7 linked regions of the Homo sapiens genome follow. The protein of the gene in region 7 purifies or fractionates together with the protein of the main gene of each other region. This does not show direct contact. Each region holds a gene or a part of one and is shown on either strand. Other genes may lie near its edges.

Region 1 (4,148 bases), on a different chromosome or scaffold from region 7:
CCTCATTTTGCCTTTTTATTTTACTTATTTTTTTTTTAGACGGAGTCTCACTCGGTCACACAGGCTGGAATGCAGTGGCTGATCTCGGCTCACTGCAACCTTCGCCTCCTGGCTTCAAGCGATTCTCCTGCCTCAGCCTCCCGAGTAGCTGGGATTACAGGCGTCCACCATCATACCCGCTAATTTTTTTTTGTATTTTTAGTAGAGATGGGGTTTCACCATGTTGGCCAGGCTGGTGTGGAACTCCTGACCTCAGATGATCCGCCCGCCTCGGCCTCCCAAAGTGCTGGGATTATGGGTGTGAGCCACCGCGCCCGGCTTTGCTTTGCTTTTTTGCAATAGAACACACCCCTCCAACCCTGCGTGTCCGGAGTGGCCACAGGCTGCCCAGCCAAAGGCTACATTTCCCAGTGTGCGCTGCCAGGAGGGCCACGTGACTAAGTTCTCCCTCCAGGAATGAGAGTGATCATGAGGTGTGCAGCTACTGGGACATCCTCCCACCCTCTTCCCCGTCACAGTGGCTGGAACATGGATGTAGTGGGAGAGCCAACCACAAGGACAGGGACAACACTGGGCTCCCCAACAACCTTCCAGAGCAAAGCTGTCTGCCAACCCTGCACACTTGCCTATCTTCCAAAGCGTTATGTGGAGAAATCAATTTGTATCTTTCTTGGGCCACTGTGTTTTGGGGGCTCCTTGGTACAACAGCTTAGACCTGAAATAAGCATGGAAAAATTCTGAACTGATGGAGTATATGTTAGAAATGTTCAGGGAGGTTCATAACAGACACTCAGCATTAGAGAGGGGCCAGCTCCTGACAGACATGCAACACGGATGAATCTTGAAAGCAGGCTGTGCAGAAGGCAAAGTGCACACTGGGGGAATGAGGAGTGACTGCTTACGGAGTATGGGGTTTTCTGTAGGGGTGATGAAATGTTTTGAAACTAGACAGAGGTAATGGTTGTACAACACTGTGAACGTACCAACTGAATTCTTTGCTTTATTATTACTTTCTCTCTTTATTGAGACAGGATCTCACTCTGTTGCCCAGGCTAGAGTGCAGTGGCATGATCTCAGCTCACTGCAGCCTTGACCTCCCGGGCTCAGGTGATCCTCCCACCTTGGCCTCCTGAGTAGTTATGAAGACAGATGCGTGCCACCATGCCTAGCCAATTGTTTTTTGGTAAAGACGGGTTTTGCCATGTTGCTGAGGCTGGTCTGAAACCCCTGGGCTCAAGTGATCTGCCTGCCTTGGCCTCCCCAAAGTGCTGGGATTACAGGTATGAACCACCACGCCCAGCCATTGTTTGCTTTAAAATGGCTAATTTTACCTCCATAAAAATTGTACAATACCATTTAGACAAAGTTGTAGAATACACTAAAGTGATCTACAGCGCTAGAAATCAGACTAGTGGCTGCTCCTAGGGTAGGAGAGACTGGGAAGGGTATGAGGGGGTTTCTGGGGTGATAAAACACACTATACAGCTGACTGTACACTGGAGACCTGGGCATGGCACGCCATGTAAATGCCACCTCAATTATAAACATAAAAGTTTGGAGGCTCAATTCCACATCTAGGGACGTACACTGTAGATATATTATCACATAAGAAAAACTGCATTTATAAGGTTATTTCCGGAAGCATCGTTTGAAATCCCCAAGGACTGGAAACCACCTAACTGTCCTCCCCCAGGGGGCTATTTAAATATGTTAAGTCCGTTCAATGGAATACTATGCAACTGTGTAAAGGAATGAGGAAGCTCTTTGTGTACTGATAGGGAAGGTTCTCAAAGAGGCATTGTTCAGTAGATAAAGCAAGATGCACAGTGGTGCACTCACAATTTTATCTTTTGTGTTGAAAAACAATGTCTAAGAAAACGTTTACCCTGATTCTAGTCATTAAGAAACAAACAGCCTGGGTGCAGTGGCTCACGCCTGTAATCCCAGCATTTTGGGAGGCCAAGGAGGGTGGATCACTTGAGGTCAAGAGTTCCAGACCAGCCTGACCAACATGGTGAAACCCCATCTCTACTAAAATACAAAAATTAGCCAGGCGTGGTGGTGGGTGCCTGTAATACCAGCTACTTGGGAGGCTGAGGCAGGAGAATCACTTGAACCTGGGAGGCAGAGGTTGCAGTGAGCTGCGATCACGCCACTGCACTCCAGCCTGGGTGACAGAGCAAGACTCTGTCTCAAAACAAAACAAGAAAAAGAAACAAACGAATCCAAGGTGAGGGGTGACAACACTGGTCTGTAATCTTTAAAACTGTCGATGTCATGAAAAAGTAAGTTGCCTGGGCTAGGAGGCTCACGTCTGTAATCCCAACACTTTGGGAGGCTGAGGTGGGATGATCACTTGAGGCCAGGAGTTAGAAACTAGCCTAGGCAACATGGTGAGACTCCATTTCTACAAAAAATTAAAAATTAGTCAATCTCTACAAAAAATTAAAAATTACTTAAGCATGGTGGTGCATACCTACAGTCCCAGCTACTTGGGAGACTGAGGTGGGAGGATCACTTGAACCTGGGAGGTGAAGGCTGCAGTGAGCCATGACTGCACCACTGCAATACAGTCTGGGCAAGAGAGCAAGACATGTCTTAAAAAATGAAAAAGTTGCCATGACAATGTGTGTTATCCTAGGTTAGAACTTGGATTAAAAAAGTAAAATGATGGGCCAGGTGCAGTGGCTCACGCCTGTAATCCTAGCACTTTGGGAGGCTGAGGCAGGCCGATCACCTGAGGTCAGGAGATTAAGACCAGCCTGGCCAACGTGGTGAAAACCCCGTCTATACTAAAAAAAATACAAAAATTAGCTTGTCATGGTGGCGGGCGCCTATAATCCCAGCTACTTGGGAGGCTGAGGCAGGAGAATCGCTTGAACCTGGGAGGCGGAGGTTGCAGTGAGCCAAGATTGCGCCATTGCACTCCAGCCCGGGCAACAAGAGCGGGGGAGTGGGAAAAAAAAAGACCTCTCCCTCTCCCTCCCCCTCCCCCTCCCCCCTCTCAGTCTCCCTCTGATGCCGAGCTGAGGCTGGACTGTGCTGCCGCCATCTCGGCTCACGGCAACCTCCCTGCCTGATTCTCCTGCCTCAGCCTGCTGAGTGCCTGGGATTGCAGGCACGCACCGCCATGCCTGACTGGTTTTTGTATTTTTTGGTGGAGACGGGGTTTCGCCGTGTTGGCCGGGCTGGTCTCCAGCTCCTGACCGCGAGTGATCTGCCCGCCTGGGCCTCCCGAGGTGCCGGGATTGCAGACGGAGTCTCGCTCACTCAGTGCTCAATGGTGCCCAGGCTGGAGTGCAGTGGCGTGATCTCGGCTCGCTACAACCTCCACCTCCCAGCCGCCTGCCTTGGCCTCCCAAAGTGCCGAGATTGCAGCCTCTGCCCGGCCGCCACCCCGTCTGGGAAGTGAGGAGCATCTCTGCCTGGCCGCCCAGTCTGGGAAGTGAGGAGCGCCTCTTCCCAGCCGCCATCCCGTCTAGGAAGTGAGGAGCGTCTCTGCCCGGCTGCTCATCGTCTGAGATGTGGGGAGCGCCTCTGCCCCGACGCCCCGTCTGGGATGTGAGGAGCGCCTCTGCCTGGCCGCCACCCCGTCTGGGAGGTGTACCCAGCAGCTCATTGAGAACGGGCCATGATGACGATGGCGGTTTTGTCGAATAGAAAAGGGGGAAATGGGAAAGGAAAGAGAGATCAGATTGTTGCTGTGTCTGTGTAGAAAGAAGTAGACATAGGAGACTCCATTTTGTTCTGTACTAAGAAAAATTCTGCCTTGGGATGCTGTTAATCTACGGCCTTACCCCCAACCCCGTGCTCTCTGAAACATGTGCTGTGTCCACTCAGGGTTAAATGGATTAAGGGCGGTGCAAGATGTGCTTTGTTAAACAGATGCTTGAAGGCAGCATGCTCCTTAAGAGTCATCACCACTCCCTAATCTCAAGTACCCAGGGACACAAACACTGCGGAAGGCCGCAGGGCCCTCTGCCTAGGAAAACCAGAGACTTTTGTTCACTTGTTTATCTGCTGACCTTCCCTCCACTATTGTCCTATGACCCTGCCAAATCCCCCTCTCCAAGAAACACCCAAGAATGATCAATAAATACTAAAAAAAAAAAAAAAATAGTTCTCAAGAATAACTGTAGAATGTGCTA
Region 2 (4,148 bases), on a different chromosome or scaffold from region 7:
CCTATTTTGTTGAATTTTTGCATCAGTAGTTATAAGGGATATTAGCTTATACTTTTCTTGTAATATCCTTGGTTTGGTATCAGAGTAATACTAGCCTCTAAGAATGAGTGAGAATTTTTTTTTGTAAAGTTGGTAAAGTTTTTTTGTTGTTGTTTTTTTTGAGATGGAGTTTTACTCTTATCACCCAGGCTGGAGTGCAATGCTGCAATCTTGGCTCACTGCACCTCAGCTTTTTGGCCTTGATGCTTTCTGATAAGAAATCAGCTGTTAATCTTATTGAGGCTTTGTACATGAATTGCTTCTCTTTTGCTGGTTTCAATGTTTTTGATTCTGTAGTTTTGGCTTTCAACAGTTAGATTATAATATGTCTGGATCTTGGGATTTATTCCGTTTGGAGCTCATTGAACTTTTCAGATGTGTAGACTAATTATTCTATTGGATTTGGGAATTTCTTTGGCCATTATCTCTTTAAATATACTTTCTGCCTCTTTCCCTCTTCTCCTTCCTATTCTGCATTTGTTGGTATCCTTGATGATGTCCCACAGATCTCTAAAGATCTGTCAATTTTCATCTTCAGTCTCTCTTGTGTGTGTTATCTTCCTCAGACTGGATAATTCCAATTAACCTATCTTCAGCTTCACTGCTGCTTTATTATGTCTGCTTAAATCTGCTGTTAAGCCCCTTTAGTGAATTTTTGTTTCAGTTATTGTATTCTCCAATTCCAGAATTTGTATCTGGCTCCTTCCAATAACTGATATCTGTTCACTGATATTCTCTATTTAGTGTGACAGCATTGTTGCACTTTAGTTCTTTAGTCATGGTTTAGTTCTTTGACTATATTTAAAATCTTTGTCTAGTTCAACATCTGGTCTCCTCAGGGACTATTGCTATTGATTGCTTTTTTCACATATATATGTATATGTGTGTGTCACACTTTCTTTGCTTGTCTCACAATCTTTGTTGAAAACTAGTCATTTAAAATAGTGTGACAACTCTAGAAATCAGATTTTCCATTGCCCCAGGGTTTGCTGTTGTTGCTGGGTGTGCTCGTTTAGTAGTTTGAGCTAATTATCTAAAATCTGTATTTTTTTGTGATGTGTGGCTGCTGCAGTGTCTGCTTGGTTTGCTCAGTGGTCAACTAATAATTAGAGACTTATTTTAACACTTCGAACCACGAAGAAAAGAACACTCAATTTTTGCCAAGAAGCTCTGTGTTGGGGGCATGCGTTCACCACTCAGCCAGGCAGTTGACAATTCTGACGTAAGCCTTCACTTCCTGTTTGCACAGAGCTTCAAAGTCAGTGAGAGGGAAGAGCTGAGGGTCTTAGTTTTGTTGTTGTTGTTGTTGTTGTTGTTGTTGTTTTTAAGCATATGCATAGCCCTATACATGACATTCCCTTTCAAGTTTTTTTGTTAGCCTGTTGTTTATCCCAACTCTTATTCAACCTCTCAGGTAGCTGTGAAGTTAAACAACTTCCTCTGTTTTCAATGAACATTCTTAGGGAAAAGCCTTTTCATACTGACTAAGCTCTGAGTCAAAATAGTCTGTAAGTGGGATCTTTCAGGGAATGACCAGACAGATCAAATAATAATTTTCTGGGAATGAGGCTCCAAAGGAGGACCTACCTATTTTGCCTCTTCTGGTGGTTGGGAGGCTGTTGGTTTTTCACAATGATTGTGGACTGTTGGTTTTCAGGGTTACCATGGAGCTGAGGGTGGGTGGGAATAGGGCAAGTCAAAATGCCACAAAGCTCTCATGCTACTTACTGAGATTCAGCTGTCTTTCTTGGATAAACACTTCCTGGCTTGAATAAAACAATTGGCCGCAAGCCTTTGGTCAATTTCTACAGTGCTGAAAAAGTTGATTCTATTTTTGTCAGTTTTCTCTTTGCCTATGTGGAGGAGAGAATTTTTTGGATGTCCTTAGTCTGCCATTTTGTTTTGTATCCACTAGCACATTCTTACTGCACGGGATAAAAATGTTCTTGGGATCCAACTAATGATAGGAATTACTTCTCCCCTAAGCATGGGAAGGAACACACAGATCTGTGAGATCTGTGGACTATATTCTCCCCTCCCCAAATATAGAACAGCATGCAAGATGGGACATCCTGTTCAAGCCAGGCTGTTTTAATCAGATGGATGATGGCTAGAGTAGGTGATGTTTACAGCTCATTTTGGCAGACAGTCTGACCTGAATGTGTCTCTTCTTGCAGGTCAGCCTCACTCTGGGTGAAATAATCAAAGGTGTGAATAGCTCAGATCCAGTCCTATGTTTCCAGGCCACCCAGACAGCCAGGTATCTCCAAACAGACTTCTGCTGTTGCAGGTTCATAGTTAGCAATGAGCGTCAGTGATGGCTGGAGCGCCGGTGGCCTATTTGGTTTCTTGGCATTGGCAACATGCCCGTAAAACACAGGAAAAGGCTAGCCCATCTAAAAGACGAAATTGCTATTCTACACTGTCCTTGAGGGCAATTTAAAAGCTTCGATGTGTTGTCAGAGATGAATTGCTTAATTTACATTGGCCTCTACAGAAATTTCATCTTGTAGATAACACCTTAAAGGGGAAAATGTTGATTTAATACCGAAAAATGCTATCGGTTGAACACTAGGATCTTAAGTAGCTCCGGCCCAGCTATGTGGCTTATGTATAAAAGGAGGTTCTTTTTTTCTCTTTTGAGATGGAGTCTCACTCTGTCACCCAGGCTGGAGTGCAATGGTATGATCTTAGCTCACTGCAACCTCCGCCTACTGGGTTCAAGTGATTCTCCTGCCTCAAGCCTCCAGAGAAGCTGAGATTACAGGTGTGCACCACCACACCCAGCTAATTTTTATATTCTTAGTAGAGATGGGACGGGGTTTCACCATGTTGGCCAGGCTGGTCTCGAACTCCTGACCTTGCGACCTCAAGTGATCTGCCCGCCTTGGTCTCCCAAAGTGCTGAGATTACAGGTGTGAGCCACCGCACCTGGCCTAAAAGGAGGTCCTTAATACCTCTCTCACTTGACCTCCCCCTCCCCTGCCCTCTCTTTCATTGCATAGGAAAATGCTATCCCAGGAAAAGAACCCCCCTCTGAAACTGGTCATTGAAGCGGGCCTCATTCCCAGGATGGTGGAGTTCCTGAAGTCATCACTTTACCCCTGCTTGCAGTTTGAGGCTGCCTGGGCCCTGACCAACATCGCTTCAGGGACTTCGGAGCAGACTCGTGCCGTGGTAGAAGGGGGAGCCATCCAGCCCTTGATTGAGCTCCTGTCTTCCTCCAACGTGGCTGTGTGTGAACAGGCAGTGTGGGCTCTTGGTAATATAGCCGGTGAGACTCTCCCCTTAGTGGGCTAAGAAAACGGGGCCAGGTGTGTGGGATACTATAAGGTTTCTTTGGGTGGTGGGGTATACTCGATGTCCCAGAACACTTTGCCATGTAAATACCTAGAAGTGCTGGCAAGGGTACAATGAGCTGTTTCCAAACTCAAAGCCAGGCCAGGCACGGTGGCTCACGTCTGTAATCCCAGCATGTTGGGAGGCCAAGGCGGACGGATCACTTGAGGTCAGGAGTTCAAGACCAGCCTGGCCAACATGGTGAAACCCCGTCTCTACTAAATATACAAAAATTAGCCAGGCATGGTGGTGCATGCCCTGTAGTCCCAGCTACTCGGGAGGCTGAGGCAGGAGAATCGCTTGAACCTGGGAGGAGGAAGTTGCAGTGAACCAAGATAACGCCACTGTACTCCAGTGTGGGCAACAGAGGGAGATTCTGTCTCAAAACACCAAAAGCCCTCAAATCCAAGTTTAGAGGCCAAATATTGAAGCTGAAACAGGATGATACAGTGTATACTGAAGCCACAGGCTAACTAGAGACATCTGCCAACACTAAGGTCCTACAGCCTCAGGGCTTCGTGGCTTCAAGAACAAGTCTTTGGCTTATGCAGTGTGGGAGTTTATGATAGACCCTTACATAACTCGGGACCCCAGAAGGACTCTGCCTTCAGTGGAAGTTGCTAAGGGAACGTGCCAAAAACAAAAACAAAACAACAACAACAAAAAAAAACTCCTTGGTTTGGGCTAACAAGCCTTCCCTGAAAGTGGAATCCTCAGACTACCTTTCTGAATGTGGCAATCGATGCTCTTTCCTGCATGGTCTAGTGAAT
Region 3 (4,148 bases), on a different chromosome or scaffold from region 7:
ACAGGGGTTGTTGGCCAGGAAGGTGCCGTAGAGGCAGGAGTATGTGTGTTGCACCAGTTTTACCTAGAAAGCAGAGAGAGCTTGCACCTGGGGGCCTCGGGCTGTCATTCCCCCCATCCCTGTTGTCACAGGCCTTAGGACTTACCAGGAATGCTTCATTAAATTCAAACAGGCAGGGGAACTGCTTAAGCAACTGATGAACAGAATCAAGCCACTGGAGGAACACAGGGCATTGTTCGTTTTGGTCCTCCACATTCTCTTGGTGGCCACAGCGATCTCCAAACTTGTGCCCAAAATCCAGCCAGTCAGACTCCACTAACACTTGGAAGCCCTGCAAAAAAAGAAACTGTTCAAACATAGGGCCTCTCTGGAAATGCTGATGTGCTACTCCCCTGGGAACTGCCCAAAGCAGGAAGCTGGCAGCTTCAAAGAAAAATAGGACTGGACCTAGAAGAGGACTCAAAGCCACCAATTTTCCAAGCCTTTGGGAGTTGGAAAAAAAAAGAAAAAAAGAGCCACCAATGTCCTCTACTGAAAGATCCCCAGGACAGATCCAGAGGGCTCAACACCTTCCCTCCTGCCACATTCCTTCTGGTTTTCCCACCGAATTCCTCTCAATACCTCCAACGTCCTGTAATATGGGTCCAGTAATATTTTGGCCAGGGCTACGATCTGCGGTGTGCGGTCCCAGCCATCTGAGCAGTGTACCAGCACAGGCCGGCCTTCCCGGTCTACTGTATTAGCCACCAGCACAGCTGCTTTTAGCATCACCGACAAGTGCTGCAGCCATTTGGTACTCTCCAGTGCCGACAACCAGCTACACAAAAGCAGACATCAAGTCGGTCACAAAGGGTGCTGAGGCCACAGCAGTCTCTCCACCATCCACAGCCAGCCCCACCCAACAAAGTCCCCATTGAGAACTGAAACCAAGAGGTACAACCCAGGGCCTTTTGGACAAGAGGTATCTAGCAGGAAGGTAGGGAAGACAGGACCTACAGCAGATAAAAGCATCTGAAGCTCAAAAGAGGAACTGAGAAGCATCACATGCACACTCAGCCATTTCCTCTCCCCAGTTCTCTGTGTTCTTTGAGTAGAACAACTGATCCAAACGAAAGGAATCCATGTCCTGTGACCACGCCAAAGTGTTGGCTGAGAAGTGGAAGGGTTCTTGGAACTAGCCCACGGCACCCAACTCCACCCAGGCCCTCAGGTCTCCTGCTCTCCAAACTTCTCATCTCCCCATCTAATCTTCCAAGAATAAGAGGTACTGGGTAAGGAATGAGACTGGAAGGAATCCAAGTAGGGAACACCTACTTGCTAGGATCCGGCATCTGGCTACACACAGCCCGGAGGTACTGAAAGCTGTTCCGGATGGCATGGATGTTGGCCATTCCCATGAACACGACCTCACAGTTGGGATAGTACTCTGTAGACATGACAGGAGAGTGGGACATAAAAGCACGTCCTAGGCCGGGCGCGGTGGCTCACACCTGTAATCCCAGCACTTTGGGAGGCTGAAGCGGTTGGATCACCTGAGGTCAGGAGTTCAAGAACAGCCTGACTAACACAGTGAAACCCCATCTCTACTAAAAATATAAAAATTAGCTGGCCATAGTGGTAGGCACTTGTAATCCCAGCTACTCGGGAGACTGAGGCAGGAGAATTGCTTGAACCTGGGAGATGGAGGTTGCAGTGAGCTGAGATGGCACATTGCACTCCAGCCTGGGCGACAGAGCGAGACTCCGTCTCAAAACAAACAAACAAACAAAAAAAGCACGTCCTGGAAACAGGCATCCAGGACAAGAGTGGTCCTGGTGGACAAAGCTTTCCTGGCAGGGCAGAGCACTCCAGGATAGGAACTAAATACAGTCTTGAAATCTGAATCACACTTGTATCTCTGGAGACTCAGGTGCCATATATTAATAATAGTAACAGTAATGACAAATGATAGCAGTACTTAGAAAGACAATATATAATCAATTCTCAATAAATAGTAGCTGCTCTGTGGCAATAATTTTATATATACAACTTCTTTTTCTTTTTTAAGACAGGGTCTCATGGTCACCCAGGCTAGAGGTGCAGTGGCATGATATCAGCTCACTGCAACCTCTGCGTCCCAGATGCAAGCGATTCTCATGCCTCAGCCTCCCAAGTGGCTGGGATGGGGCCACAGGCATGCACCATCATGCCCAGCTAATGGTTTGTATTTTTGATAGAGGCAGGGTTTCACCATGTTGCCCAGGCTGGTCTCAAACTCCTGAGCTCAAGCCATCCGCCTGCCTCTGCCTCCCAAAGTACTGGGATTACAGGCATGAGCCACTGGGCCCAGCCTACATATGCAACTTCTAATCATCCCAACAATTTTGCAAAGTGTGTAACATCCCCTTCTTATAGAAGAGAAAATAAAGCTTGGACAGATTAAGCAACTTCAGCATAGTCATAGCCATAGCTAGTAGGTAGCAAAGTTGTGATTACAAGCCAGGTTTGTTTGGGCTCTTTCCACTATACAAATGGCCCCCAACCCCCTCCTCACCAAAGCCACCCAGAGCACAGGCTGGCTGCAGACACTGGGATAACAGCAATACCTTCACATTCACAGCCTCCACCCTTGGCCCGGTTGGCCACTGCTGCCGTGTAGGATCGCGCATCCAGGATCAGCAGCTTTTGAGGAGCTGCTGTGCTCTCCACTCCAGAGCACGCAGTCAGAGAAGAATCTAAACACACAGCAGGAAGGAGTCCCTGAGTCAGCCAGCCACCCAACCTCTTGCTGGCCCTCTGGCACTCCCTCTCAGAAGGCAGAACATGCAACTAGAGACCCCTCATACCCCACAGCTTCTGACAAGGCAGGGACCCCAGCACCCCGTGTGTTGTCATCTTCCCAGACTCTCACTGGGGACTCCCTGGGAGCCAATGAAGCCAAGGAGGGGGCCTGCTCCCTGGGGGGTTAGCATCATCCACACCTTACCAAAGTCAGCATCACACGCCTCGCTGGTATCATTATTCCCGGTGCTGAGGGAGCCCCCAGTGGCCCTTGTCCCCGGGTCCAGGGCACAGGCTTTAGCAATGGACGTGACCAGGTACTCATCATCAGCATTGCGCCAGCCCCACCAGCTGATCTCTGGCTGGCTGCAGCGGGCGATGGCAGCCCCATTGCGCAAGTGTCTGACAAAACAGAAGAAACCGTAATGCCCTTGGCATTCGAAGCCTCCAGAGGCCTACCTCAGGGGGTTAGACCAAAGTCTCTAGAGCCAGCAGGGGCTACCAACTCATCCAGGCCATAACAGCAACCAAAAGCCCCAACGTCACTAGCAGGCTTCACCGTTTACAAAGCACCATCACACATACTTTCTCAAATGGGCTCTGTATGTCCAAGGTGACCTTGACTCATCAAATCTGCACAGCAACTGCTCCAGGTACAGACACCCAGCAGGAGAACAAGGCCTGGCTGAGCCAAGAATAGGAACAATTCCAAACTTCAGGGTTACTTCCTGTCTCACTCTATTTTAGCTACAATATTCTAGTGCAGGGATCAGCAAACATTTTCAGTAAAAAACCAGACAACAATTTTTGGCCTTGTGGGTCACAACCAGTTTCTGTCATGTATTCTTCTTTGCTTTTTTTAAAAATAGCCCTTTAAAAATGTAAAAACCACTCACAGCTTACAAGCCGTTTTATATAATAGGCTATAAGCCAGATTTTGTCTGCAGGCCAGTTTGCCAACCCCTGTACTAATGTGTGTATAAAATAATGTACTATTTTATACACACACACACACACACACACACACACACACACACTCTAAAAAAAGGGGGGGAATGAATAAACTCCCTAATAGCCTTATTCTTAGGAGAAAAAACTAAGATAGTTTTTGTTTTAAAGTTATTTCATACTTCCCCATAGAGTGTCAATTCTCAGTCAACCAGGTTACCCAAAATCTCCAATTTTGACTCTTTCCTTGTTGCATAAGAAATGGCCTCCCTACTTCCCAGCCCCACTGCCTCACCTATACACAACCACGGGAATCCGCTTCCAGGAGCGGAAGGAAGCCACGTTCTCCAGCTCTTTGTCAGTGATCCACACAGGAACCAGCAGCTTCTGGGGGTAACTGGGGCACAATCTGAGAAGAGACCAGGTGGGGGTCACTGCAC
Region 4 (3,840 bases), on a different chromosome or scaffold from region 7:
TGTGTGTGTTGGGAGGGGAAGTGTGTGGCCCCGCGGGAGGCTGGGCGGGTTACTGCAGGGCTTCAGCCGAGGGACCCGCCTCGCCCTCGTGGCTGGCGGTCTCGAAGCCATGCTCCACACCCATCATGTCCGGCTCGATCTTGCCCGTTTCACTGATGAAGGTGGTGTAGGCGTCATCCTCAGCCTTGAGCACCTTGACCTTGGGCATCCAGCTCTTGCGCACGACGCGGCGGGCGTTGGTGCACATGTCGGCCGCGATGGCATTCATCTCGCTCTCCTTGAAGTTGGGGGCGAAGTTCTGGCAGTAGTCTGTGGGGCAGGGTGGGTGCGGCCTTGGCACGGGGGCCAGGTGACTCCCACAAGGCCTACTCACCAGCTCCCCTACAGCATCTGCGACTCCCTCTCAAAGGGGAAACGAGTGAGGCCACGCGGCCAGGACACCACACTACGTGCACCCAACCCTACACCGGACTGAGTTCAGCCATGTGTGGGGATGTGTTGGTTTTGATGGGATGGCCCCGTGTTCTTGAAAAATTCGGATCATTTGCCAGAATTTAGTAACGGGGAGTGGTCACTTGAAAATCTAGATGCCCCCCATGACGAGTGGCTAGCACTGTCTGGCTGCCTCATCCCTCCCAGACTGCCCTGAGTTCGAGACCCTCCTGCCTGACACAGGCTCCCTGGCTTCCCTTCGGCACGTGCATCCCCCAAACACGAAGAAATCTCTAAGCAATCACAGCCGGTTTCCCAGCAAGGCTAGAATGAGCCCCAGAATGCTTCTCAACACTGAACTCTAGCCCTCTCTGAGAGCCAAGGCTGGGAAAAAACGTCAACCTGCGTGCCCCGGGCCCACGCCTCGTCCAGCTGGGCCAACACTCACACTTGACAGCGTGGAGCACGCGGCTGTCCAGGGGCTTCCGACGGGGATCGTTGGTAGAAGAGCGGATGCCGGTGCCGCAGCTGTTGGCCAGCGTGTTCCTGGGGGCAGGGGACATGGAGGGAGTCAGCGCTCAAGTTGGTGGTGGGGGGGACATGGGGAAACCCCACCCCCCTCCCTGGGGCTCTGGCAAGGGCCTTACCGGTCAAAGAAGGAGGCCAGGAGCCGCCGCAGTAGGACCTTGTGCCGCGTGCCTGCGCTGACGTGGCAGTTCATCAGCTGCGCCCTTGTGATGTACACGTTGGTGCCTGGTGAGAGGAAGCCGGAGGATGGCCTGGGGTGCCCCCAAACCGCCACAGCCCCCATGATACCAGGCCTCATCTCAGAACACCCCAGGCCCTCCCTGCTGGGCTCTGGGTCCCAAGAAAACTCACCCAGGGACCTTCTCCCCTACATCTCTACCCACCAAGGGCAGTCAGGGGAGGCTCCTTGGGGCTCCCCCAACCTCATCAGTGCTCAGGAAAGGACAGAAAGGGTTGCTTCACCATCCTCGGGGTGCCTGCTGTGTGGCCAGTCGTGCCGCAAGCCTGTGTGAGGTGGGCACGCTGGCTGTCACCAGCTAGAGATGAGCCCAAGCTCAGCAGGACCAACAGGGAGTGGAGGCTCACACCTAGGCACTCTGACCCAAGGACCAAACACAGTCTTCTTCTTCTTTTTTTAAGAGATGAAGTCTCACTCTGTCACCCAGGCTGGAGTGCAGTGGCCACCACAGCTCACTGCAGCCTTGACCTCCTGGGCTCAAGGGATCCTCCCACCTCAGCCTCCTGAGTAGCTAGGACTACAGGCATTCGCCCCTGTGACTGTCCAAATTCCTAACCTAGGTAGTAGCTGGCCTTCACAGGAGCCCGGGAAGTAGCTAATCTACCCATGCGGCCAAACAATAATAGCCAATGCTCGCCCCGACCCCTTAAGCCAGAAACCTAGAGGCCAGGCCTTGCTGTATCAGCTCCTCCATCTCACCAACGCCCCCACCCTTAGGGTGGCTGTTACCAACACTACAGCACAGATAGGGAAACTGAGGTGCTGGGGGCTCCTAACCAGCTGCCCAGCCCAGCCCAGGCCAGCCGGCTCCAAAGCTGCGGAGGGGAGAGATCTGGGGCGAGACCGGCCCACCTGTCACCAGCTCCAGCTTCTCAGAGGGGTCGCCCTCGTCGTAGAGCTTGGGGTGGCAGCGGTTCCCAATCTGGTTGATAAGTTCAGCCGGGAGAGACGCCAGGTCTTGCCGAACCCGGATGCGATTTCGGGACTCGGGGGCTACCTGCTCCGGGAGGGCCTCCACCTTCTCGGCTGCAGGGAGAGAGTGGCACGCGAGTGGCAGGAGGAGCAGGGGTGGCTGGTGGGATGGGGGACAGGACGGCACCTCACCTGTCTGGCCGACGTTCATCATGCTGTACATGGTGTACATGTTGCAGATCTGCCGGTACTGCTCATCCATGCCCTCCTCGCCACCATCCTCCTCCTCGTCCTCCTCATTGTGGTAGGAGCCAGGGCTGTCGCTGGTGTAGGCGCTTGAGGTGCCTGGGCTGGTCCGCTCCGACGTGCTGGGCCCACTCACCACACCCCCTGCTGCTGCCACCCCACCGGCTGGCTGCCCTGCTCCCGCAGCCACGGCGGGCTGGGCTGCTGCCACCACCGGAGCCTGTTGGGGTGGCGGGGGCTGGTGAGGCCGGTTGGCAGCCAGGTCCGGCGTGGAGAACTTGGCCATCTTGCGGCTGCCATTGCCGCCGCCCCCAGCCTCCTTCTGGCCACTGTCCCACAGCCGCTTGGCCACGGGCATGCACTGCACGGAGTCCGACTCCTGCTGCTCCGTCTTCACCCGCGACACGAGGGGCAGCGGGGTGCTACAGGCTGGCCAGCCCGATGTCTGCGCCACGGGGCTCTGGGGCTCCGACGATGGGGCCTCCTCCGCATGCAGGCCCTGGGAGTCGCAGCTCGGGGAGCTCACCTTGAGGAAGAACTCGGTGCCCTTCTCCATGATCTCCTGGATCTGCAGGAAGCCAGCCGTGTACATGAGCAGGAACTGGTCGCCCACGTTCATGCTCAGCCGGCCCGTGTAGCAGAAGCTGAGGATCTGCTGGAAAGACTGGGGCTGCACAGCCGCCGGCAGCTCCACCACGGCGCTGCGGCTGTTGTTGAACAGGTCCCGGAAGTAGGAGCTGCTGGCAGCAAGCACGGCCCGGTGGGCCTTGAAGGCATGGCCCTTGACCACCACTGACACGTCACAGTACAGGCCCTGCAGCCGCTGTTCATTGAGGCACTCCAGGATGCTGTTGCCGAAGTTCGGGATCTCCATCTGCAGTGTCTGGGCCATGGCAGCGGCTGCACGAGGGGCAGGGAGGAATGGAGAGACAGAGACGGAGGGACGGGGTCAGGCGGCAAATGTGGGTGCTGGCCTAGCCCTGGCCCCAAAGACCTCCCCTGCTGGAGGGACATCCGCACGATGGAATCTACCATGGTGCTAAACCACACAGAGCCCTCTACCCTATCTGTCCTGGTACAGACTCACTTTTACAATATGTGGTCAAATCTGCTAAGCTAGCTGCAGACCAGGGTGGCCACACGCTATCCCTTGCAAAGAGGAGGGGGCAAAGGCATACTTATTCATATGTACTTGAAGAGTAACTGAATATGCTTAAGTGCTCGGAAGAGTGGCTAGGACACAGTGTGCTACCTCTGAGTGCCAGCTATTGCAAGCACCAGGTACATATATGGTATCTCTTCAGGGTACTGGCATGGAAATGCCAGAAAGGCAGGGTCATCTGACTGTGCAGCAGAGTCTGCAGTGCTGGGCACATGCCCTTCAATCACTGTTTGTATAATGACTAAATGACCACTCAAGAAATTACATGAGGTCAGGCGCAGTGGCTCACTCATGTAATCTCAGCACTTTGGGAGGCTGAGGC
Region 5 (4,148 bases), on a different chromosome or scaffold from region 7:
TCAATTATGTATATTTTGCAAGCCAAGGATGTGCTTCACACTGAGCTAAGTCCTCTGAGGGTAAAAAAGAAATCAGATACCATGTGGAAGAAGAAACGTCACCAATTAGTGGCTGCAAATGCCTAGAATAGGGATTTCAAATTCAATGCCTGCAGAGGCCAAGCAGGAATGGAAATATACTCAAAAGAGAAGAGAGAGAATAGCCTGAAAGGCACCTCTTCCAGGCTGGGAAATCTGAAAGGTGCATTGAATTGAGCATGCCTGACCAAAATGTTAACTGATTCTCCTTTCTATCCAATTGTCCCCATGCAGGAATACCGGCCTAGTGTTGCCAGATATTCTGATTTTTAAAAATTTGTGTATTTATCGAGGTCAGGAGATCGAGACCATCCTGGCTAACATGGTGAAACCCCGTCTTTATTAAAAATACAAAAAATTAGCCAGGCGTGGTGGCGGGCACCTGTAGTCCCAGCTATGCAGGAGGCTGAGGCAGGAGAATGGCATGAACCCGGGAGGCGGAACTTGCAGTGAGCCGAGATCTCGCCACTGGACTCCAGCCTGGGCAACAGAGCGAGACTGCGTCTCAAACAAAAACAAAATAAAATAAAAATACAAAAAAATTAGCCAGGTGTGGTGGCAGGCGCCTGTGGTCCCAGCTACTCGGGAGGCTGAGGCAGGAGAATGGCTTTGGACCCGGGAGGCGGAGCTTGCAGTGAGCCGAGATCACGCCACTGCACTCCAGCCTGGGCGACAGAGCAAGAGTCCGTATCAAAAAAAAAAAAAAAAAAAAAAATTGTGTATTTATTTATTTATTTATTTTGAGACGGAGGCTGTCTCTGTCGCCCAGGCTAAATTGCAGTGGCGCAATCTCGGCTCACTGCAACCTCCCCCTTGTGGGTTCAAGAGATTCTCCTGCCTCAGCCTCCCGAGTACTGGGACTATAGGCACGTGCCACCACACCCGGCTAATTTTTTTTTTTTTAGATGGAGTCTCGCACTGTCGTCCAGGCTGGAGTGCAGTCGCGCAATGTCTGCTCACTACAAGCTCCGCCTCCTGGGTTCACGCCATTCTCCTGCCTCAGCCTCCAGAGTAGCTGGGACTACAGGCGCCCACCACTTCACCCGGCTAATTTTTTGTACTTTTAGTGAAGACGGGGTTTCACCGTGTTAGCCAGGATGGTCTCAATCTCCTGACCTCGTGATCTGCCCGCCTTGGCCTCGCAAAATGCTGGGATTACAGGTGTGAGCTACTGCGCCTGGCCTTATTTTGAATTTTTTGTATATATTTTTTGAGGCAGAGGCTCACTCTATCGCCCAGTCTGGAGTGCAGTGGCAAGATCACAGCTCACTGCAGCCCTGACCTCTTGGGCTCAGCCTCCCAAGTAGCAAGGACTATGGACCCGCACCACCACACCCGAGTAATTTTTAAATATTTTGTAGGCCTGGTGTGGTGGCACATGCCTGTAATCCTAGCACTTTGGGAGGCCAAGGCGGGTGGATCACTTGAGATCAGGAGTTCGAGACCAGCCTGGCCAACATGGTGAAACCCCCTCTACACTAAAAATACAAAAATTAGCCGGGCGTGGTGGCGCACACCTGTAACAACAACTACTCAGGAGTCTGAGACAGGACTATCGCTTAAATCCAGGAGGCGGAGGTTACAGTGAGCCGAGATTGTGCCACCGCACTCTAGGTGGGTGACAGAGCCAGACTCCATCTCAAAAAAATTAAAATTAAAATTAAAATTAATATTTTGTAGAGACAGCGTTTTGCCATGTTGCCCAGGCTGGTCTCTCGAACTCTTGGCCTCAAGCAATCCTCCCTCATCTGCCTTCCAAAGTGATGGGGTGACAGGCGTGGGCCACCGCACCCAGCCATACTTTTTGTTTGTTTGGTTGGTTGGTTGGTTGGTTTTGAGACAGGGTCTTATCTTACTCTGTCATCCAGCCTGGAGTGCAGCAGTGCAATTACAGCTTGCTGCAGCCTTGACCTCCCAGACTCAAGTGATCCTCCAACCTCAGCCTCCTGAGTAGCTGGGACCACAGGCACACAACCACCATGCCCAGCTAATTTTTGTATTTTTGTAGAGACGGGGTTTCGCCATGTGCAGGCTGGTCTCGACCTCCCGGGCTCAGGCAGTCTTCCTAGCTCAGCCTCCCAAGTAGCTAGGAGTACAGGCACACATCACCATGCCTGGCTAACTTTTTGGTATTTTTTGTAGTGATGGGGTTTCTCCATTTTGGCCAGGCTGGTCTCAAACTCCTGGCCTCAAAGTGATTTGCGTGCCTCGGCCTTCCTAAGTGCTTGGATTATAGGCATGAGTTACCACACCCAGCCAAGACTACTCAAGAAGCCTCTACCAGGCATTTTTTCATTTGGCCTTGCCAGAGTGAATAACAAAGACAGTGGCAGCTTATTTGCCAGGTACACAGTTCCTAGTTGTAAATACTGTTAAAGAAATGGACATAACCCTTTTGTATGCTCTTGAGCAGAATTTGTGTGGCTTGAGCAGAATTGAGGCAGCTCAGCTGCTCCTCATTCTCCACTGATTCTTCACCCTATGACTGGCATGGCAGGCCTGCTTGGGGGCTGCAAGGACACGCTGGGTCTGGTTCCACCTTGTGCATCACTCCCAGTGCTGCTTTCCCCTTTGCTGAACCGCCTCTGCCTGGGGCTTCTGTCATTTCAGCTGGTCATTCAGGTTCCATACTTTAGGTTCTATCTGCCAGTCATTTGCACTTGATTTTAATTTTACTCAGCCAGCATCTGTTGAGTACCCAGCAAATGCCAGATACTGCCAAAATGTATTTTAGCCTTAAGGAACTTCAACTGAAAAGAGACGAAAGTGGAAACCTTACATTGTAATAAAAAGCAGAATGAAGTGCATGCCACCTCGTGGTACAGGTAATGGAAATTTGCTGTGAGATAATAGGAAGATGATCATTCATTCCAACTGGGGATGTTTCTTCAGGAGGAAGGTGATGATATTTGAACTGGGCTTTTTATACTCTTTGCTAGGAAGGACAGAGAAGAAAAAACAAATCTGACTTCATAATCTGCCTGTTTACCCAGACTCTAGTCCTTTTGCTAGTAAACTAAAAATAAAATACCCAGGAAAATCATCTCTTAAAAATATCCAGGGTCTGAAGGACAGATCTCATCCTCTCTTGTTTTTAACCTCTGCCGGGAGACCCAATTAGTCTGTTGGCATCACCACACCCAGATGAAGGCAGTGAGCAATCATTGGAAGCCTGAGCAAACAAGTTCTAGGAGTTCCCCCCTTGCCTGTCCGTGCCTTGCTCTCAGAGCCCTTGGGTTTGTAGGCAAATTGCCCCTCCTTCCCAGTCTTTCAGCTCACTTGACAGCTGCACCTTTTCCAGGCTCCTTGTTGTACTGCCCAGTCCAATGAGTTTGCACATTGTCTTCTGTTTTCACTCTCTTCTGTTGGCAAAGATTCCTGCTCCCTTAGAGAACTGGCTGCCCTGCTCTCCTCTCATACCACTTTCTCTGCCCTTCAACCACTTCTTTTTTTTTTTTTTTTTTTTTTTGAGGTGGAGTCTCACTCTGTCTCCCTGGCTAGAGTGCAGTGGTGCGATCTTGGCTCACTGCAACCTCCACCTCCTGGGTTCAAGTGATTCTCCTGCCTCAGCCTCCCTGAGTAGCTGGGATTACAGACGTGTAGCACACCTGGCTAATTTTTGTATTTGTAGTAAAGACAGTGTTTTGCCATGTTGGCCAGGCTGGCCTTGAACTCCCTGGCCTCATGTGATCTGCCCCGCTTCGGCCTCCCACAGTGCTGGGATTACAGGCGTGAGCCACCACACCTGGCTTCCTTCAACCACTTGCTTCCTCCACCAACCTCTGTCTTGCCAAAGGCAAGCACCAGATGGCCAGTCTCACTCCCCCTCTTCCTGCAGAAGAGCAGGAATAAGAGAGTCAAGGAGGGAAGCAGGCATGTTGCTGGGAAGCCTTTGGTGCAGATAACCTTGGCTACTTAGAGTCTCCAGGTGTGTTCAGTGCTTGTAGAATGAGGTCAGTAAATACCACACTCCACCCCAGGAGAGTGGTCAACAGGCAGCAGGAAAAGGCTTGCCCCAGCTACGGGTGCAGCTGCAAACCATGTTGGGTTAGAAAGGTGAGGGTATCAGG
Region 6 (4,148 bases), on a different chromosome or scaffold from region 7:
TCAATAAAATAGATAAGTCTCTGGTCAGACTTACCCAGAAAAGAGAGAAGACACAAATTATCAATATCAGGAATCAAAGAGGCAACATCAGTACAGACATTACAGACATTAAAAAGATAAAAGGAATATATCACAAGCAACTTTCGACTCACAAATTAGACAACATAGATGAAATGAACAAATTCCTAGAAAAGAGATATAAAAGCATGATTTCCAAATCATTTTAACAATGAGGGAGGTAGAGGGATGGGAGCTTAAGGAAATGCAGGGACAGGGAGGGAATAAACTAAATGCTTAGTCTTGCGACATTTTAAATACTACTCAAAGGATGCCTGGCTGTTTGGTACAGAAGTCCAAGTGTCTCAGGGTTTCCTTTTGTAATTCCGAGGCTATAACAAAAACCAGCTAGTATTGCCGAGATCTATGATGCATGCATTTGTCATCCAAAAGTTAAACTAAAGCTAAAGCCTAACAGAAGAGTTTCTATTCCCTCAGATCTAGATTCTAATTGGATGGACTTCAGTAAAAGCAAAAGATTTCAATACGACTCAATATGCCATGGCAGTGCCACCTCCATGGATGTGCTTCCTGATACACTCAGTGCAGGCCACCTTCTTAAGAAAGGGTTGTATCACAAGCAGATGCTTCCATAGACTAACAGCCCTCATTCCCCTGCCCAGCTGGATAGCGAAGTCCCTGTGCACACATGAGAAAGGCAAGCTGGAACCACAGCTAGCCCATGCTCTGCAGCTCTGTCTGCCACCATATCCCCAAGGGCTACCCTCGTACACCCAAACCCACCTGTAAGAGTCCTGCACACCTTCCTAAGAGTTTTCTAAAAGACAACCAGTGGGTGGAGAACAGACAACATCATTCCTGGGGACCATATTACTTTCAGTTTTTAGCTATTAGAAACAACCCATTTGTTCTTACATTGTGTGGATGATGTTAACCCAAGTTACGGACCTGGGGACTATTCATACTTGTTTCCCTACCTTCAATACCAATAACTGAAATACTGTAATTGTTCCCCACATTGACCTTTGAGAAACTCCATCTTCTTGGCACAGATTAAAATCTTTGTTTTTGAACTTAAGATGAGCTTTGGAATCCTGGTTGAACGTATTTTTCTTTTACATTTACTTCAATTAAATATTCTACAATATTCTACATTTTTAATGCATTGGGATAATTTAGTCTTCAAATATTTGATGTGCAGATGGAAATTATAAAGCTCACAGTAAAAGAATGACCTAGAGAAATGTTAAAGATATTCTGTTAAAAGATAAAAAACAGGTGACACTATATATATACAGTATGTCTCCAACTTTGTAAAGTTAGAGAAACAGATGTAGAATTACCTGTTTAGAAAAAGTATTCCAAAGCATTATGTTAATAATAATTATCAGAGGTGGAGCCAAGATGGCCAAATAGGAACAGCTCCAGTCTACACCTCCCAGTGTGAGCCACGCAGAAGACGAATGATTTCTGCATTTCCAACTCAGGTACAGGGTTCATCTCACTGGGGATTGCTGGACAGTGGATGCAGGACAGTAGCTGCAGCACACCGAGCAGGGCGAGGCATCGCCTCGCCCGGGAAGCGCAAGGGGCCAGGGAATTCCCTTTCCTAGCCAAGGAAAGGGGTGATAGACAGCACCTGGAAAATCGGGTCACTCCCACCCTAATAATGCGCTTTTGCAATGGTCTTAGCAAACGGCACACCAGGAGATTATATCCCGCGCATGGCTCTGAGGGTCCTACGCCCACAGAGCCTCGCTCATTGCTAGCACAGCAGTCTGAGATCAAATTGCAAGGTGGCAGCAAGGCTGGGGGAGGGGCGCCCACCATTGCCGAGGCTTGAGTAGGCAAACAAAGCGGCCGGGAAGCTCGAACTGGGTGGAGCCCACCGCAGCTCAAGGAGGCCTGCCTGCCTCTGTAGACTCCACCTCTGGGGACAGGGCACAGACAAACAAAAGGCAGCAGAAACCTCTGCAGACTTAAATGTCCCTGTCTGACAGCTTTGAAGAGAGTAGTGGTTCTCCCAGCATGCAGCTTGAGATCTGAGAACAGACAGACTGCCTCCTCAAGTGGGTCCCTGACCCCTGAGTAGCCTAACTGGGAGGCACCGCACTGTAGGGGCAGACTAACACCTCACACGGCCGGGTACTCCTCTGAGACAAAACTTCCAGAGGAACGATCAGGCAGCAACATTTGCTGTTCACCAATATCCACTGTTCTGCAGCCTCCACTGCTGATAGCCAGGCAAACAGGGTCTGGAGTGGACCTCCAGCAAACTCCAACAGACCTGCAGCTGAGGGTCCTGACTATTAGAAGGAAAACAAACAAACAGAAAGGACATCCACACCAAAACCCTATCTGTACGTCACCATCATCAAAGACCAAAGGTAGATAAAACCATAAAGATGAGGAAAACACAGAGTAGAAAAACTTAAAATTCTAAAAATCAGAGCACCTCTCCTCCTCCAAAAGAATGCAGCTCCTCACCAGCAATGGAACAAAGCTGGACAGAGAATGACTTTGACGAGTTGAGAGAAGAAGGCTTCAGATGATCAAACCACTCCGAGCTAAAGGAGGAAGTTCGAACCCATGGCAAAGAAGATAAAAACCTTGAAAAAAGATTAGACGAATGGCTAACTAGAATAACCAATGCAGAGAAGTCCTTAAAGGACCTGATGGAGCTGAAAACCACGACACGAGAACTATGTGACGAACGCATAAGCCTCAATAGCCAATTCGATCAACTGGAAGAAAGGGTATCAGTGATGGAAGATCAAATGAATGAAATGAAGCGAGAAGAGAAGTTTAGAGAAAAAAGAATAAAAAGAAACGAACAAAACCTCCAAGAAATATGGGACTATGTGAAAAGACCAAATCTACATCTGATTGGTGTACCTGAAAGTGACGGGGAGAATGGAACCAAGTTGGAAAACATGCTGCAGGATATTATCCAGGAGAACTTCCCCAATCTAGCAAGGCAGGCCAACATTCACATTCAGGAAATACAGAGAACGCCACAAAGATACTGCTCGAGAAGAGCAACTCCAAGACGCATAATTGTCAGATTCACCAAAGTTGAAATGAAGGAAAAAATGTTAAGGGCAGCCAGAGAGAAAGGTTGGGTTACCCACAAAGGGAAGCCCATCAGACTAACAGCGGATCTCTCGGCAGAAACTCTACAAGCTAGAAGAGAGTGGGGGCCAATATTCAACATTCTTAAAGAAAAGAATTTTCAACTCAGAATTTCATATCCAGCCAAACTAAGCTTCCTAAGTGAAGGAGAAATAAAATACTTTACAGACAAGCAAATGCTGAGAGATTGGTCACCACCAGGCCTGCCCTAAAAGAGCTCCTGAAGGAAGCACTAAACATGGAAAGGAACAAAGGTACCAGCCACTGCAAAAACATGCCAAATTGTAAAGACCATCGAGGCTAGGAAGAAACTGCATCAACTAACGAGCAAAATAACCAGCTAACATCATAATGACAGGATCAAATTCACACATAACAATATTAACGTTAAATGTGAATGGGCTAAATGCTCCAATTCAAAGACACAGACTGGCAAATCGGATAAAGAGTCAAGACCCATCAGTGTGCTGTATTCAGGAAACCCATCTCACGTGCAGAGACACACATATGCTCAAAATAAAAGGATGGAGGAAGATCTACCAAGCAAATGAAAAAACAAAAAAAGGCAGGGGTTGCAATCCTAGTCTCTGATAAAACACACTTTAAACCAACAAAGATCAAAAGAGACGAAGAAGGCCATTACATAATGGTAAAGAGATCATTTCAACAAGAAGAGCTAACTATCCTAAATATATATGCACCCAATACAGAAGCACCCAGATTCATAAAGCCACACAATAATAATGGGAGACTTTAACACCCCACTGTCAACGTTAGACAGATCAACGAGACAGAAAGTCAACAAGGATATACAGGAATTGAACTCAGCTCTGCACCAAGTGGACCTAATAGACATCTACAGAACTCTCCACCCCAAATCAACAGGATATACGTTCTTTTCAGCACCACACCACACCTATTCCAAAATTGACCACATAGTTGGAAGTAAAGCACTCCTCAGCAAATGTAAAAGAACAAATTACAACAAACTGTCTCTC
Region 7 (4,148 bases):
GCCAAGATCGCGCCACTGCATTCCAGCCTGGGCAACAGAGCGAAACTCCATCTCAAAAAAATAAAAATACAAATAACAAAGAACAAGAAAAAAATAGAATAAAAAAAACAGAGACCAGGAAACAGAAAATAAAATGTCAGACTTAAGCCCTAACATGTCAGTAACTAAAATAAATGTAAGTAAGCTAAGTTTATCAATTAAGAGATAGAGAATGGCTTTAAAAAACATGATTTAAAAATATGAGCCAACTGTATGCTGTTTTAAAAAATTCACTACAAATGTAACAATATAGGCAGAATGAAACTAAAGAATGTGAAAAGATATATCGTGCAAACATTAATCAAAGGAGAGCAGGAGTGGCAATATTAATATCAGATAAATCACACTTCAGAGCAAAGCAAATTACCAGAGACAGAGTGGGACACTAAGTGAATAAAAGGGTCAATCCACCAAAAGGACACCACAATCCTAAATGTGTGCGCACAAGAGAGCTATAAATACGTGAAGTAAAAAGTGATAGAACTGGAAGGAGAAACAAACAAATCTATAATCAGAGTTGGGGTCTTCAATGTCCCTTTCTGAAGAGTTGAAAGTATTACTAGCCAGAAAAGCAGCAAGCAAACAGAACTCAACACCACCACCAACTCTCAGTATGTAAGTGACATTTCTAAAAAACTCTACCCAACAACAGCAGACTATGCATTTTTTTGACTGACTGCAAATGATACTGTATTTTAAATTTTGGTGTCCACGTATTTATGGCTAGCACGCAGAAATAATAAATATTGTTTGTTTTTATGCAGGTATAAATCTAACAAAAACAGAAAATTTATACACTGAAAACTGCACAATGCTGATGGACGAGAAAGGAATGAGCCATTGATACAAGCAAACATGGATGAATCTCCAAGAATTATGCAGAGCGAAAAAAAGCCAATCCCAAAAGGCTACATACTGTATAATTCCATTTCCATTTCCATAATATTGTTGAAATGAAATTACAGAAATGGAGCTCTCTAGTGGTTACCAGGCAGCAGACAAGTGGGTGTGGCTATAAAAGGGCAACAGAGGGATCCTTACAGTGCTGGAAATGTTCTGTATCTTTTTTTTTTTTTTTAAAGCAATACCCATGGGTTATTTTGGCAGTTTCTGAATGCATAAATGGAATAGACATATTCAGTTTCTGGCAGAACTTTCACAGTGATTTCTAACCTTTAGAGTGCCAACTGAAAAATCACATGATTTATAAATTTAGAAAGGAGACTTTCTTTTCTTTAGAGATAGTCTCAGTTGCCCAGGCTGGAATGCAGTTGTGTGCTCACAGCTCACTGCAGCCTCGACTTACTGGGCTCAGGTGATTCTCCCACCTCAGCCTCCCAAGTAGCTGGGACCATAGGTGTGCACCACCACACCTGGCTAATTTTTGTAGTTTTTGTAGAGACAGGGTTTTGCCATGTTGCCCAGGCTGGTCTCCAACTCCTGGGCTCAAGTGATCCGCCTGCCTTAGCCTCCCATCCTGACCGTGATATTATACTACAGGATTTTACCATTGGGGGAAGCTGGGCAAAGTATATAAGTGATCTCTCTATATTACTTCTTACAACTACATGTGAATCTGTAATTATCTCAAAAGAAAAACTTTAATTAAAAAAAAGCCATGGTCCTGGTGAGGAAACTTTTTGCGGGTAATGGAATTGTTCTCTATCATGGTGGGATGGTGGTTGCATCTTTATACATTTGTTAAATCTCATTGAATTGTACCACCTAGTGAATTGTGTAGACATTATGCCTCAATAAAGTAACAAAATTCCCACAGCCTGAGATTTCTTTGACCCTGCCACAATGCATGGTGGGGTCCTGTCCCCTCCCTTGTGGCTACTGGATGCTGAGGTACTCCAAGGCTGGTCGGGAGAGCCATGCAGTGGCTGCCCGGGTGACTGGAATATTCATGCTGGAAGCCTGAGCAGTCATGTTGTAAGGAAGTCACATTCAATGGAGAGACCCTGCAGGTGCTTGGCTCAGTAGTCCTGGTTTGGAGCCCTCCCAGCAGATGTCTGAGCCATGCTTCCAGTTCTTAGCCATTGAGTCCCCACCTGAGGGCCCAGATATCACAGATCAAAAAGATGTCATCCTCACTGGGCTCTGCCCAAATTCCTAACCTACAGAATCCATGAGCATAAGGAAAAGGTTGTTTTAAGCTGCTAGGTTCTGGAGTAATTTGTTAAACATCAGTAGGAACCAAAACAATTAAGTCTAGTTATTCTCCTTATTTTACAATGGCACACAGAGGTTAAGTCACTTGCCTACAGTCACAAAGCTGTTATAGCAGATACAAAATTTGAAACCCGTGACCTGAGCCACGATATTATAGCACCTGTAGATTAAGTATAATTATGGTTATTTTTATAGCGGACTCTCATCTTTGCTGGGGTCCAGCTCTAACATCCAACCTTTAAAAGACAAGTAAAAATGATTCTCGACCCCATGTCTCCTCTTTTCTTTACAGCAGAACTCTTTTTTTTTTTTTTTTTTTTTTGAGACGGAGTCTTGCTCTGTTGCCCAGGCTGGAGTGCAGTGGTGGATCTCAGCTCACTGCAGGCTCTGCTTCCTGGATTCACACCATCCTCCTGCCTCAGCCTTCTGAGTAGCTGGGACTACAGGCTCCTGCCACCATGCCCGGGAAATTTTTTGTATTTTTAGTAGAGATGGGGTTTCACCGTGTTAGCAGGATGGTCTCAATCTCCTGACCTCGTGATCCACCCACCTCGGCCTCCCAAAGTGCTGGGATTACAGGCGTGAGCCACCACGCCCGGCCTATAGCAGAACTCCTTAAAACAATTATTTATAACCTATTGTCTCTAAACCTCTTTGAATGTGCACCCTTATTAATAAAAATATTTCATTCTTTTCTTTTTAAGAGATGAGGTCCTGCTCTGTTGCCCAGGCTGGAGTGCAGTGATGTGATCATGGATCACTGCAGCCTCAACCAACCTCCTGGTCTCAAGGCATCCTCCCACTCTAGCCTCCCAAGTAGCCGGGCCTATGTGACCATGCTACCATGCCTGGCTAATTTTTATTTTATTTTTCTGTAGAGACAGTGTCTTGCTATGTTGTCCAGTCTGGTATAAATATTTCTTTTTTTTTTTTTTTTTTTGAGACAAGAGTATTGCTCTGTCGCCCAGGCTGGAGTGCAGTGGCGTGATCTTGGCCCACTACAACCTCCGCCTCCCAGGTTCAAGCAATTCTCCTGCCTCAGCCTCTCGAGTAGCTGGGATTACCGGCATCTGCCATTGCTCCTGGCTAATTTTTGTATTTAGTAGAGACAGGGTTTCTCCATGTTGGTCAGGCTGGTCTCAAACTCCTGACCTCAGGTGATTCACCCGCCTTGGCCTCCCAAAGTGTTGGGATTACAGGCTTGAGCCACCACACCAGGCTGGTAAAAATATTTCTAAGAATATACCTCTAAAAAGCAGCCGGGCACGGTGGCTCACGCCTGTAATCCCAGCACTTTGGGAGGCCAAGGTGGGAGGATCATGAGGTCAGGAGATCGAGACCATCCTGGCTAACACGGTGAAACCCCGTCTCTACTAAAAATATAAAAAATTAGCTGGGCGTGGTGGCAGGCACCTGTAGTCCCAGCTACTTGGGAGTCTGAGGCAGGAGAATGGCATGAACCCAGGAGCTTGCAGTGAGCCGAGATCGTACCACTGCACTCCAGCCTGGGCGACAGAGCGAGACTCCGTCTCAAAAAAATATATATATACCTCTAATATACACATACTTAGTTATAAATCATGCACAGGTTTTAATTATATAAAAAGTATTCTTCTCAAGAATGCTTAATGTTATTAAAATCAACGCTCTAGACCTAATTTACAGATCATAGAAAATGCAGGGATAGAGAAGCAAGTTAAAGTACTCCATGAAGAAACAAGTAGTAGTAAATATTAGAAAAGAGAACTGGCCTTCAATGTCATTAAAAACAAAAGAAAAAAAAGAGGTAAGGTATGGTTCTAGGTTAAGACAGTAAAGAGGAATAGCTAAATGTCTTAATCTTGATTGGAGAATAGTTCAGAAATAAAAATAGCTGCAAAATATATTTTGAGGACAATTAAAGAGACCTGAATATGGGCTGAATATTACATGAT

Evidence for each region.
Region 1: the proteins of CDC45 (region 7) and POLD1 purify together in Homo sapiens (pull-down; one study listed by IntAct). This does not show direct contact.
Region 2: the proteins of CDC45 (region 7) and KPNA7 purify together in Homo sapiens (co-immunoprecipitation; one large-scale study listed by IntAct). This does not show direct contact.
Region 3: the proteins of CDC45 (region 7) and MTMR4 purify together in Homo sapiens (affinity purification with mass spectrometry; one large-scale study listed by BioGRID and IntAct). This does not show direct contact.
Region 4: the proteins of CDC45 (region 7) and NACC1 purify together in Homo sapiens (affinity purification with mass spectrometry; one large-scale study listed by BioGRID and IntAct). This does not show direct contact.
Region 5: the proteins of CDC45 (region 7) and ACTR1A fractionate together in Homo sapiens (co-fractionation; one large-scale study listed by BioGRID). This does not show direct contact.
Region 6: the proteins of CDC45 (region 7) and DTD1 purify together in Homo sapiens (affinity purification with western blotting; one study listed by BioGRID). This does not show direct contact.

The regions. Positions count from the first base shown.
Region 1 is NC_000019.10:50,390,542-50,394,689, reverse strand, and holds part of POLD1 (DNA polymerase delta catalytic subunit), read right to left. Parts: intron 1-4,148. UniProt on the Homo sapiens protein: As the catalytic component of the trimeric (Pol-delta3 complex) and tetrameric DNA polymerase delta complexes (Pol-delta4 complex), plays a crucial role in high fidelity genome replication, including in lagging strand synthesis, and repair.
Region 2 is NC_000007.14:99,194,235-99,198,382, reverse strand, and holds part of KPNA7 (importin subunit alpha-8), read left to right. Parts: intron 1-2,216; coding exon 2,217-2,299; intron 2,300-3,044; coding exon 3,045-3,313; intron 3,314-4,148. UniProt on the Homo sapiens protein: Functions in nuclear protein import.
Region 3 is NC_000017.11:58,504,158-58,508,305, forward strand, and holds part of MTMR4 (phosphatidylinositol-3,5-bisphosphate 3-phosphatase MTMR4), read right to left. Parts: intron 4,118-4,148; coding exon 4,004-4,117; intron 3,163-4,003; coding exon 2,966-3,162; intron 2,715-2,965; coding exon 2,586-2,714; intron 1,427-2,585; coding exon 1,315-1,426; intron 818-1,314; coding exon 622-817; intron 332-621; coding exon 146-331; intron 64-145; coding exon 1-63. UniProt on the Homo sapiens protein: Lipid phosphatase that specifically dephosphorylates the D-3 position of phosphatidylinositol 3-phosphate and phosphatidylinositol 3,5-bisphosphate, generating phosphatidylinositol and phosphatidylinositol 5-phosphate.
Region 4 is NC_000019.10:13,134,616-13,138,455, reverse strand, and holds part of NACC1 (nucleus accumbens-associated protein 1), read right to left. Parts: intron 3,257-3,840; 5' UTR 3,249-3,256; coding exon 2,303-3,248; intron 2,225-2,302; coding exon 2,051-2,224; intron 1,186-2,050; coding exon 1,080-1,185; intron 979-1,079; coding exon 881-978; intron 310-880; coding exon 50-309; 3' UTR 1-49. UniProt on the Homo sapiens protein: Functions as a transcriptional repressor. Seems to function as a transcriptional corepressor in neuronal cells through recruitment of HDAC3 and HDAC4. Contributes to tumor progression, and tumor cell proliferation and survival.
Region 5 is NC_000010.11:102,492,401-102,496,548, reverse strand, and holds part of ACTR1A (alpha-centractin), read left to right. Parts: intron 1-4,148. UniProt on the Homo sapiens protein: Part of the ACTR1A/ACTB filament around which the dynactin complex is built. The dynactin multiprotein complex activates the molecular motor dynein for ultra-processive transport along microtubules.
Region 6 is NC_000020.11:18,758,631-18,762,778, reverse strand, and holds part of DTD1 (D-aminoacyl-tRNA deacylase 1), read right to left. Parts: intron 1-4,148. UniProt on the Homo sapiens protein: Possible ATPase involved in DNA replication, may facilitate loading of CDC45 onto pre-replication complexes. An aminoacyl-tRNA editing enzyme that deacylates mischarged D-aminoacyl-tRNAs.
Region 7 is NC_000022.11:19,486,299-19,490,446, reverse strand, and holds part of CDC45 (cell division control protein 45 homolog), read right to left. Parts: intron 1-4,148. UniProt on the Homo sapiens protein: Required for initiation of chromosomal DNA replication. Core component of CDC45-MCM-GINS (CMG) helicase, the molecular machine that unwinds template DNA during replication, and around which the replisome is built.